Linked DNA regions of Homo sapiens: region 1 is linked to region 2. Evidence: fine-mapped expression QTL. Tissue or cell type: prefrontal cortex. Region 2 holds a variant in brackets; the other region holds the start of a gene. All regions are shown on one strand. Distances are from middle to middle. Region 1 holds the start of SH3PXD2A-AS1 (SH3PXD2A antisense RNA 1). Region 2 overlaps SH3PXD2A (SH3 and PX domains 2A).

The links. PIP is the estimated chance that this variant, and not a neighbour inherited with it, causes the effect.
Region 1: SH3PXD2A-AS1 starts here. The variant in region 2 is the best candidate, but not a certain one, in a credible set for the expression of SH3PXD2A-AS1 in prefrontal cortex (GTEx, PIP 0.88).

The regions. Positions count from the first base shown.
Region 1 is chr10:103,743,683-103,749,056 of GRCh38, reverse strand. SH3PXD2A-AS1 (SH3PXD2A antisense RNA 1) reads right to left here and starts at 2,278. Exons shown (of 3, transcript NR_038940.1): 1 at 1,961-2,278. The region is part of intron 3 of SH3PXD2A (SH3 and PX domains 2A); the gene reads left to right. RefSeq lists enhancers at 1,294-1,794, 1,795-2,295, 2,712-3,233.
Region 2 is chr10:103,798,643-103,804,016 of GRCh38, reverse strand. It overlaps SH3PXD2A (SH3 and PX domains 2A), which reads left to right. Exons shown (of 15, transcript NM_001394015.1): 2 at 2,655-2,735. Among named protein-coding and RNA genes, the nearest start is that of SH3PXD2A, 54 kb to the left of the region's middle. RefSeq lists enhancers at 1-244, 3,245-3,746 and a silencer at 2,936-3,015. The variant C/G (reference allele first, on the strand shown) is at 3,017.

The DNA.
Region 1 (5,374 bases), 55 kb after region 2:
TAGCCAGGTGTGGTGGCACATGCCTGTTATATCAGCTACTTGGGAGGTAACAGAGCGAGACTCTGTCTCAAAAAAAAAAAAGAAAGAAGAAAGAAAGAAAGACTTCAGGAAGAAGGGCTTCGGGCAGGGTCTGAAGGTTCTGGTGTCTTCTCACCGTGAACATTATGGTCCTTGGCCTTGGAGGTCCAGGAACTCAGGCATTTCTGAATATGCAACTGTAGTGGCTTCAGTGTGCTCTGTGTGGCCATTCAGTCTCTTTGGCACCTTTCATAACCCCACCCCAGGGACCTCCCAGCATGCGTCCTGATGCACGTACCCACTGGACTCCCTTCAGCTTCTCAGATGTGCCTGTCTCTTCAGTCTCTGGGCCTCTGCTCAGACTCTCCCTCTACCTGGAACACTCTTCCCGCTTCCCTTTGCCTGTCTCACTCTCTCCACTTCCTCAGCCCTGTCTCCCTCCTGCGTGTGCCTATGACAGCCAACACATCACAGCGCAGTGCCCATACACAGTATCCTTTGCGAGGGCAGGGACCGTCACCATCACAGCCCAGCCCCCAGCACAGTGCCAGCATTTGGGAGGGAGTGAATGGGTGTTGCGTGTTGCCCCTTCTTTCAGGGATGGGGTAGGGTTGAGATGTACCCCGTCAGGAAAGCTGGCCACAGGTTGCACAGCCCGGGGCTCAGGGAAAGGAAGGAAGATAGCAGAATCATTAGGAGCCTAGGCATGTTCAGTCTGCCCAAAGAAAGAGACTGTGGCACACCCAATCCCAGCTCCACCACTTCCTCGCTTTGCAACCCTGGGCGGGGCACTCAACTTTTCTTACCTTCAGTTTACTCATCTGTAAAGTGAGAATAACAACAGCACCCAGTATGTAGCTCAGAGGTTGTTATGAGGATCAACTGTCATAATAAATATAAAGTACACGGCACAGGGCTTAGCACATACCAAGTGCTCAATGAATGTTACGTCCTCTTAATGTTACTGTCACCATCCTTGCAGGAGATGGGTGGAACCACAGAAAATGCTGGTGGGAGGTTGATGAAGAGAGTTGACTGTCTGGGCTCAGTTTTGCCAACAGAACCAAAGCTCAAGGAAAGCAGGCTTTGGGACAGGCGCGGTGGTTCAAACCTGTAATCTCAGCACTTTGGGAGGCTGAAGTGGGTGGATTGCTTGAGCCCAGGAGTTCAAGACCAACCTAGGCAACACAGTGAGACCTCATCTCTACAAAAATAATAAATAAATAAATAAATAAAATGAAAGCAGGCTTTGGTGGACAGTGTCCATCCCAAGAGAGCCAGGCAAACTCCCCTGTGGCTGGCCTGGCCAGGCCTGTGGTTTTGGGCCCTTTACCGACAGGCCTCTGCTTCCTGCGGCTTTTCCTCTGTCTCAGAGCCTCAGAAGTGAGTGGGTGTCTTTCAGCATCATCACTGCGACCCAGGACTTCCATCTGCCTGCCCCACAGCCTCCTCATCTGGCTGGGCCATTCTGCAGTGTTTCTCTGAGCTCCAGAGGCCTCGTGCCCCTCGCCAAGCCCCCCACACTGTGGACCATGCCACAGGGAGAGGCTGCCAGGAAGCTCTGCCCAGCGTCCCACCGTCTTTCCTGAGGGCAGCCTCCCCTGGAGGGAGGAGCCGAGGCTGCACAGGCTGAATGGGGCCCTTTATTCCCGGCTCCCACAGGGAGGGTACAGAGCCACTGCCCACCACGCCCACCACACCCACGCCCACATGGAGGGGGTACAGCTTGGCCCTGATGCCGGCCTCTGAGCTAACCACACTCTGGCCCCACTGTGTCTGCGTCCTGGAGGGTGAATCCACCCCTCTCCCCAGCTCTGGCTGAAGCTGCCGTCCCTAATGTGTGGGGTGAGCTGTATTTGCTAGTCTGCCAGGGGTCTGGGGGTGTGTAAATGAGAGACAGCCTAGAGCAAGCCAGTGTGAACACACACTCACACTCACTCACCTTTCAGCAAGTCGCGGTCGGGGTCCCTGTGTGCCCGTCCTTGTGCTGGGCCCTGAGGATACGTTCGTGGGCTTCACTGGCTGCAAGAAGCTTGCATTCTGTCCTTAGGGAACGCTGTAAAGAGGCAGGTTCAGAAGATCATTATCAATGGTGGCAGATTCTGGGAGGGAAACAACGGAGGCCGGAGAGAGAGGGCACATGGCCACCAAAGGCCTCCCAATGAGGGATGCAAGGCAATGGCTGGGCAAAGGGCAGCAGGAACAGTGCTCCAGGAACAGGAACAGGGACAGCGAACACACAGGCCTGAGGTGGGGAAGAGCAGGATGTGTCTGTGGCGTGGGCAGAGTGACAGGAGATGGGCGGGCGGAGAGAGAGGCAGGAGCTGAATCCTGCCCGGCCACAGAAGGGAGTTTGGATTTTATCCTCAGTGCCCTGGGCAGTCACTGAAAGGGTTAAGCAAGGGTTATGGTTTGAGAATATTATTCTGAGGCCAGGCGCAGTGGCTCACGTCTGTAATCCCAGTACTCTGGGAGGATCGCTTGAGCCCAGGAGTTTAAAACCAGCCTGGGCTACATGGTGAAACCCAGTTTCTACAAAAAAATACAAAAAATTAGCCTGGTGTGGTGGCGCATGCCTGTAATCCCAGCTACTCCGGAGGCTGAAGTGGGAGAATCACTTGAACCCGGGAGGCAGAGATTGCAGTGAGCCGAGATCACTCCCCTGCACTCCAGGCTGGGCAACAGAGCAAGACCCTGTCTCAATAAATAAATAAATAAAAATAAAAAAGAAAGAAATGGTTCTGGTCCCACTGCTCTAGAATGCTGCTCAAAAAGACTTCCATTCCATTTGGTTCAGCAAAGATGTATTAGTCCCTCCATGGGCCTGGGACTAGGTGCTTTATCACTAGCAGACACCCATAAAATCCCAGTTGACCCACCTGGGGTGAGGGAGAGAAAGATACTGTTCCCTTCAGCCTGGCTCTGCTTACTGGGTATGGGAACCTCCGAACCAGAATTTGGGAGATCGTTCTTCCCTCCAAGGTGCGCTGATGCTTTCTGCAAGCAAGCCGTGGCTGCAGGAGGGTGAAGGCTTCACTCTGTCGTGAACCCCAGTGGGCTTTTGCAAGTGTGTTTCCCTGGGCGTGTGGGAGAGGGAGTGGGGAGTGCTGGAGCGGGCAGACACACCTGTGTGAGTCACCCTAGAATGCCCCTAGGGGGCGGGTGGAATGAACAATTGGCCTCCTTGCCATTGTGTCACGTCCTCTGCCCTCTGAGTTGGGCCTCCGAGAAACGGAAGCCGTGTGGGAGACACAGATGTGTTTATGGGTTGGGTGAATCAGGAAGGGCAGCCGCAGGCTGAGGGGAGCTCGTGTTTGGCCTTGGTGGGAAGCCAGGTGGATGGACTGGGTGCCTGGGAAATGCTTCTGGTACTTGGATTCCACGTGGCCAGCAAGGAGACAGGCAGGGCCCACCCCACCCCATCCCACCTCCTTGACCTGGAAGTGTCAACTCATAAGAGATCCCATTTGTTCACCATTTGCCATGGGCTGGGCTCCATGCTAAATGCTTTTACAGACTCATTCACTGGCTCCTCGTAATAGTCCTTTGCATTAGACATTACTGCCTCCCATTTTGTAGTCTGAGGAAACTAGCATTCGAATAGGTTATGACTCATCCCCTGTCACATAACAGTAACTGGCAGAGCCAGATGTACCAGTCAGGACTCTCCTGGTGACAAGAAATAGACCCATCTCAATCTGGCTTAAGAAAAAAGGGGAAACTTATTGGTTCACATAACTGAAAACCAAGAGTAATGGTTTCAGGCATAGCTGGATCTAGGGGACCAAATCTGTGTCTCTTAAGCCCTCAGCTTTGCTGTCTTTTCTGTTGACTTAATTCTCTGATAGGCTTCCCCCAGGTGGTAACAGAGATACATAAAGATGCTTCCTAGCAGCTTGGGGCTTGGCATTTATGAGTTAGCAGCTGTAGAGAGAGAACACATCTCTTCCTGGTAGTTCCAGCAGTAGTCCCAGGCTGATTCCCACTGGACCAATGTGGGTTGCATGCCCATGGCTGGACTGTACTTAATGATCAGCCCCAGAGTTTGGGATGGGATCAACCCCACTGAAATCCCATGGACTGAGAATGAAGGAGGGATTGTTTCCCAAAAGAAAATCGGGCACTGTAATAATTAAAAGCTGGCAGACAAAACCTACCAATGTCTACCATGCTAGACTTCAAGCCAGAGGCAGCATCTTGGCTCTAAAGAGAGATTCATGGGAGCCAGAACTCAGGGCATGGTGTCAGTATGCCTCAGGCTGCTGACCTTCGCTATGGGGATTGTGTCTTTCCGGAACCTGCATGTGCCCACTGCTTCCAGCCTCAGCATCTAGGCCTCACTCCTGCCTTCCCCCAGCCCAAGTAAATGGCAACAAAGCCAGATGTTGCAAGTGAAGAAGGAAGGATTGGGTGTCAGGGTGTGATCTGAGCCAGGTACAAGGCTGTAGACTCTGGGGATGTCATCTCAGCTGCACCAGAAGCTGGAGGCAGCCCAGCAGGGGAAGAGGTGACCTGCAGTCCCCAGGCTGCAGAGGGTCAGAGGTGACATGTGAGTTTCAGGGGCAGCACTTAAAAAGACAAGCAGGGGCCAGGTGCGGTGGCTCATGCCTGTAATCCCAGCACTTTGGGAGGCTGAGGCGGGCGGATCACCTGAGGTCGGGAGTTCGAGACCAGCCTGACCAACATGGAGAAACCCCATCTCTACTAAAAATACAAAATTAGCCAGGTGTGGTGGCACATACCTGTAATCCCAGCTACTAGGGAGGCTGAGGCAGGAGAATCGCTTGAACCCGGGAGGTGGAGGTTGCGGTGAGCCGAGATCATGCCATTGCACTCCAGCCTGGGCAACAAGAGCGAAACTCTGTCGCAAAAAAAAAAAAAAAAGACAAGCAGGGGCCTGCCATTCAGCCACTCCCACCCTAGCCTAGGCAGGGCTAACCCAGGTGAAAGCTGGGTGGCCCCATGGTCAGGAAACAGCTGAACATCAAGAGCAGGGCCAGCTTTCAGGAAGACAGGGGAGCCAGTAGAGGCTGTTCCGCCGTTCTTCTCCCCTGCCCATTACATCCAGTTCCATCAAGGCCTCTCTGCTCTATGCTCTCTTCCCTAGCGAGACCCTGTTATTGAGTGAGAAGCCGGTGCCTGCTCATACTCAGGTGTGAATGGTTAATAAGGCTCACTGTACCATTCTCCAGGAAAAAGTTGATATATCTTGACGAAAATCTTAAAGAAACTAAATTCTGATTCTGCAATCTCAGGCATCAAAGAAGTAGATTGTGAGTTTGTTTGTTTTTAGAGTTGGGTATTCTTAGGGCCCAGGGCATACCCTCTTGGTGTCTGCTTGCTTTAAACCATCAAA
Region 2 (5,374 bases):
GTAGTAACTCTTTCAACCAATTGCCAATCAGAGTATGTTTAAATCCACCTATGACCTGGAAGCCCCTCGTCCCCGACTTAGAGTTGTCTCACCCTTCCAGATGGAACCAATGTAAATCTTATATGTATTGATTGATGTATTGTATTTCCCTAAAATGTATAACGCAGGCTGTACCCCATCCACCTTGGGCACATGTCATCAGGACCTCCCGAAGCTGTGTCGCAGGTGTGTCCTTCACCTTGGCAAAATACACTTTCTAAACTGATTGAGACTTGTTTCAGATACTTTTTGGTAGACAATGTCATTCAGTCCTGATCAAAGTAGTTCAGTTTAGATAAATTTATGTACAGGGAGATAGTCCAGTTCAGTTAAGAGCATAGGTATTAGAACTCAGCTAGACCTGGGTTCAAATCTTTTGCTCTGTAATTTATTAGCTGTGTAACTTCAGGCAAGTTACTTAGCTTCTCTGAGCCTCACCTTCTTCTTGTACAATATGGGAATAACAGTGGTAGCTACCTTATTGGGCTGAAGATTAAATGAGCTAATGCATATACATGCTTTATGCTGTACTGGTAACTAGTTACATTTAGTTGCTTAAACATTAGGTAACATTAAGTTATCAAAATGGTTTTACAATGTATCATGTGATACCTATTTACATATGATGTAAAGCAAAGCATACCCCCATTTATTATAATAATAGCCAATAGTCTATTTTGAGCTGATGAAGATAGGGGTGGCCTTTTACCTTATGTTCTGTATCAGGGCCACATGTCATAAATGCCCCATCTCTGGGTGGCAGCACTCAGACCTGTTTGCTTTGGCTTTATGGCCCTCTCCTTGGTTGCGTTTCAGAAAAAACTCGCCATGGCATGAGTCTGCCTCTGTGTCATAGAGATAGGAAGGGAGAAGAGACTGGATTCAGCTCATTTTCCTGTGTATCACCGGAGCAGCCAAGCACAAAGCCTCACCACGCCTGTGGCAAACCCTGTTCCAGGCACCTGGGAGGTGGGCCAGTCTGATGGCAAGGTGTCTAAATGCCACTTCTCTTTGCTAACGTTCCTCCTCATCTTGGCCCAGATCCCTGGCCTCACTGGCTATTTTATTCTTAGGGTAGAGTCCCCCCAGCCCCACCCCTACAGACCTACAGGACACAGTGACTAGGCAGAGACCCCGGAATCTGAATTTTTATGAAGCCTGCCCCCGGCCCCAGGTGATCCTAAAGGGCACCCTGGCCTGGGAACCACCATTGAGGACCTACAGCCATTGCCTCTCTCCTGAGGGAGGAAAGGGGGCAGAGGTCTTACCTGTGTCTTATCAGTGCCCTCCCTTAACTGTCCTCCTGGAGACACCCCTGCAGGTGTCCTTCCCAGGGAGAAGTTCAACAGAAAAGCCCTGAGGCTGTGGGAGGGCACCCATTCCTCTAACTCAGGCCTTTCCCAGGAAGGACAGAAATAGTGGGAAGAGCAGGCCAGATTGTGTGGACTGGGGGCTTTCTCTCCTTCTCCAAGGATTCCTAAGTCAATTCAGCCTTCCAGAGTGGCATGAGCTCTGGCAGAGCCTGATGGAGACTTGGGAACCGGGGTGACAGCCTGGCCCTGAAATGCCTTCATTGTGAGGCTCCCAAAGAGAAAAGTTTTTCCAGTCTCCCACGTGCTAACGCCTCTTCTTCAAATCCGTTTCTCATCCAGAAGACCAGTGTGTTTGTTCAACATAGCAAAGTGTTTTCTGAGCACCTGCTCTGTGCCAGGCACTGAGCAAAGACAGGGATGCTGAGATGAATCACACATCTCTGAGCACTTCTGGTCTCCTGAAAGGCATTTCAGAGTGAGTTCTGAGGATCCACAGTAGCAAAACAAGCTGGGGTTTGTTAAAAGTGTAAACATCCGAGCCCTCAAAACCCAGGTCTGCAGAATTTCAGAGAGCGGGGTCCACCTGCAATTTCGGAGGGCCTCTTATAGAGTCTCATTCACTCTAAAGTTTGTGAACCAGTGGAAATTAGCTATCTAAAAAGGCCAGGCGTGGTGGCTCATGCCTGTAATCCCAGCACTTTGGAAGGCCAAGGCAGGTGGATCATCTGAGGTCAGGAGTTCGAGACCAGCCTGGCCAACATGGCGAAACCCCGTCTCTACTAAAAATACCAAAATTAGCCAGGCATGGTGGCAGGCACCTGTATTCCCAGCTACTCGGGAGGCTGAGCCAGGAGAATTGCTTGAACCAGGGAGGCAGAGGTTGCGGTAAACCGAGATCACACCACTGCACTCTAGCCTGGACAACAGAATGAGACTCTGTCTCAAAAACAAACAAACAAAAATGTAGTGACCTCAATTTTATGTTTATTGTATGAAATATATACAAATAAAAAGAAGGAAATTAAAACCACTCATTCTGATCCTACTTTCCTAAGATAATCATTGTTGGCATTTGATGAAATATCCCTCTAGGGGTATGTGTGTGTGTGTGTGTGTGTGTGTATTTAGACATATATTGTAGCATCTACATGGTAGCTGATACTGTGCTAGCCCCTAGGGACAGATGAGATGAGTAAAAGAGTGGTCCTGCCATATGGAACACCTGCAGTCATGTTACATGATGCCTGGCACAGACAGCTTGAAATCCAGCCTTGCTCACCTGCTCTTACCTTTTTCCCACAGGTATACATAATCAATGTGACCTGGTCTGACTCCACCTCCCAGACTATCTACCGGAGGTACAGCAAGTTCTTTGACCTGCAGGTGAGTTTGTCAGAGCTCGGACAGTGGCCCAAGTCTCTCTGGTGGGCTGGCCTCTCTCATACCCTCGCTTATCCAGGGAGCCCCCAAGAGAGCTGTCAGGGTCAGAGTCCAGGTGGGAGCAGAGGGACAGAGGAGGGAAGCTGGAAGGTGGAGCTGGGCTCGTCTCAATCTTGCATACTGCAGGCAGACACTCAGGACTTTGTTGGCCTCCTCTGATGGTCTTAACAGTAACGCTTTGTCACCCTCCCTTGCCTGCAGGGTAGGAAACTGTGGTGAAGAGG[C/G]GGGAGGATGGTGGGAGGTGCTGTGTGCCTGACCAGACGTGTGTCTATAAACATCCAGGGTGAGACAGAAGCCACTGCATCATTGCAGGCAAAGAAAAGCAAACACTCAGGGAAGACCGAAACAGAAAATAAGCAATTTTTTCAACTACAGGCACAAACTAGGCATACATACCACGGTGTCTGTCTGACCGAATGAGGCACTTGCCACCCAGTTTGTACATGTACGTGGTAGGTGTGTGTCTCTAAGACACAAAGGCATGTTCACAAGGGAATGGTAGTATGGGTCCCACAGCTACCCCTGCAGACACCCCCCTTGATGCCAGCTAAGTTAGTCAGGCCTCTTTGGGTTGCAAGTGATAGTTTTACAATTGCACTGGCTTAGACACAAAGGAGATGTGATTGGAAGGAGGGACCAGGGAAGCTTGTGCAGCCGACCACATGGTGAGAAGGGCAGTGAGGCAGAGGCTTCAGGAATGCCTGAAACCAGGATCTGCTCTCCCTCTGTCTTGTCTCTGCTTCCCTCTGGCACTGCCCTCAGCTTCTGTTACCTCACACCCTGAGGAATATGGCTGTCAGCAGCTCTAGAATTTTATATCTTTTGGCTCCCAACAGAGGGGAAATTGACTCCCAGTTCCAAGTTGAAAAATCCCAGGGACGATTTTGATTGGTCTGGCTTGGGTCAGATGCCCTCTCTGGACCAATCAGTATGGCTGGGAGTTGAGGGTCTTTTAGCACAGACATGGCCACTAGGGAGCCCACCTCTGCGGATCACAGGCAAGTACTAGAGAAGGGAGAATCAGTGTGAGTTGAGCAGCAGCCCTTTCAGGTAGAGCCAAGATGTTCTAGATTCCTCTCGGGGTTGTGAGCCTGGTTTAGGCCAATAAAAACACAAAGAGACACTCACTTCTACCCTCACAGCCAGGGTCCACTCCTTTCTTGGCAGGCCTTTGGTTGTCAGTCATCTTGGAGAGGTCATCTTGGGTACCGTGTGCTTGCCCCCAATACCTAATTCTATCTCATTGTCCTCATTGCCCTACCTATGAGACAAGCCAAGGGTGACCTAGCTTCCTGTATTACAAATCCTTTCTTAATCCAACAATGTGGGATTGAATATCCCATTGAATATGGGATTGAAAGCCACTCCCTACTCTCCAGCCTTCTTCCTCTTCCCTCCTCAATTCATGTCCAGTCTCCTTAATTCCAGTGTAATCTGGTGGGGTTTGCTGATACCCCATCAATGGGTGCAGTGTGCTGGACAGGAAGTGATAACTCAGTTGGGGAGAGGGAACCCTGAAAGGACTCATTGATGAGCTGGAGGGGGCCTGAAAGCCAGTGGAAACTTCCAAATCAGAACTTTTCTTCCCCCTCTTCCCTTATGGTCCCCCACCCACTCCTGCATTGCAGAATCTCAGGAGAAAGGAATGCTGCTCCCCCACCACCACCTCCCTTGCCTGGAGGGCTCATTCCCTGTGTGTGGAAAGGGGATACGCAAGCAGGGAGCAGCTAGTGCAGTGTGCTGGCCCTAGCTTGGCAATGGCCATGAGCTTGGCCAGGCTTGTCCACGTGGGTCATTGCTGACCTGTAGATGCAGTTTGGGAAGGGGTTGGAATCGTTCTTTGGAAATTAACTTATGAGCCAAGCATAGCATCTTTACGAACCCATTTTACCTGCCATGATGAGTTTTAGTGGCGTTCATTTTGAAAAGCCTTGCTTATTTATCAGGTCGCTGATTTTGGTATGGCGGATCCTATAGAGGAAGAACAAAGGGAGTTGCTAACTCCATCTCTGGTCATTGGTGCACCTCAGAACTCATGTCCCTGAGAGATTGTGTAAGAGAGCAGCTTAGAGTTTAGGCACTGGGGGCACATTCCCTGGGACCGGTTACTGGCTGTCACCACGTAACTCCGGACAGGCTCCTTCACTTCTCTAGGCTTGCTTTTCTCATCTGTAGTGTGAAGGTTCAAATTGCCTGCCCGGTAGGGTTGTTAGGAGGAATGAATGAGTGAATCCACGTTTCTCCCAACACTTAGTTGCCTAGTGAGTTGCCTGGTGTTAGCAGGTTGCAGGGATGTTGGGCTGCATGGCTGGGGGGCGTCTAGGGGCTGGAGACCCACTCACTGATGTTGCTTTGTGGCTTCCCTCACTTGGCGTCACTCTGTGGTGAGCTCCCTGTGCCCAGTCCCTGCCGGCGTATTCAGAGCCAGGTAGGCCTCAGGCTCCTCTCTGAAGCTGTCCTCTGGGGCAGGGTGGGAGCCCGCTGGGAGCTGGGGTGTGGCCCAGGGGCAGCTCTCAGAAATGTTTTGCTCCTTTCCTTTTTGGCTGACTCTGAGAGTCCCAGGCTCACCAGGCCCACCTCCA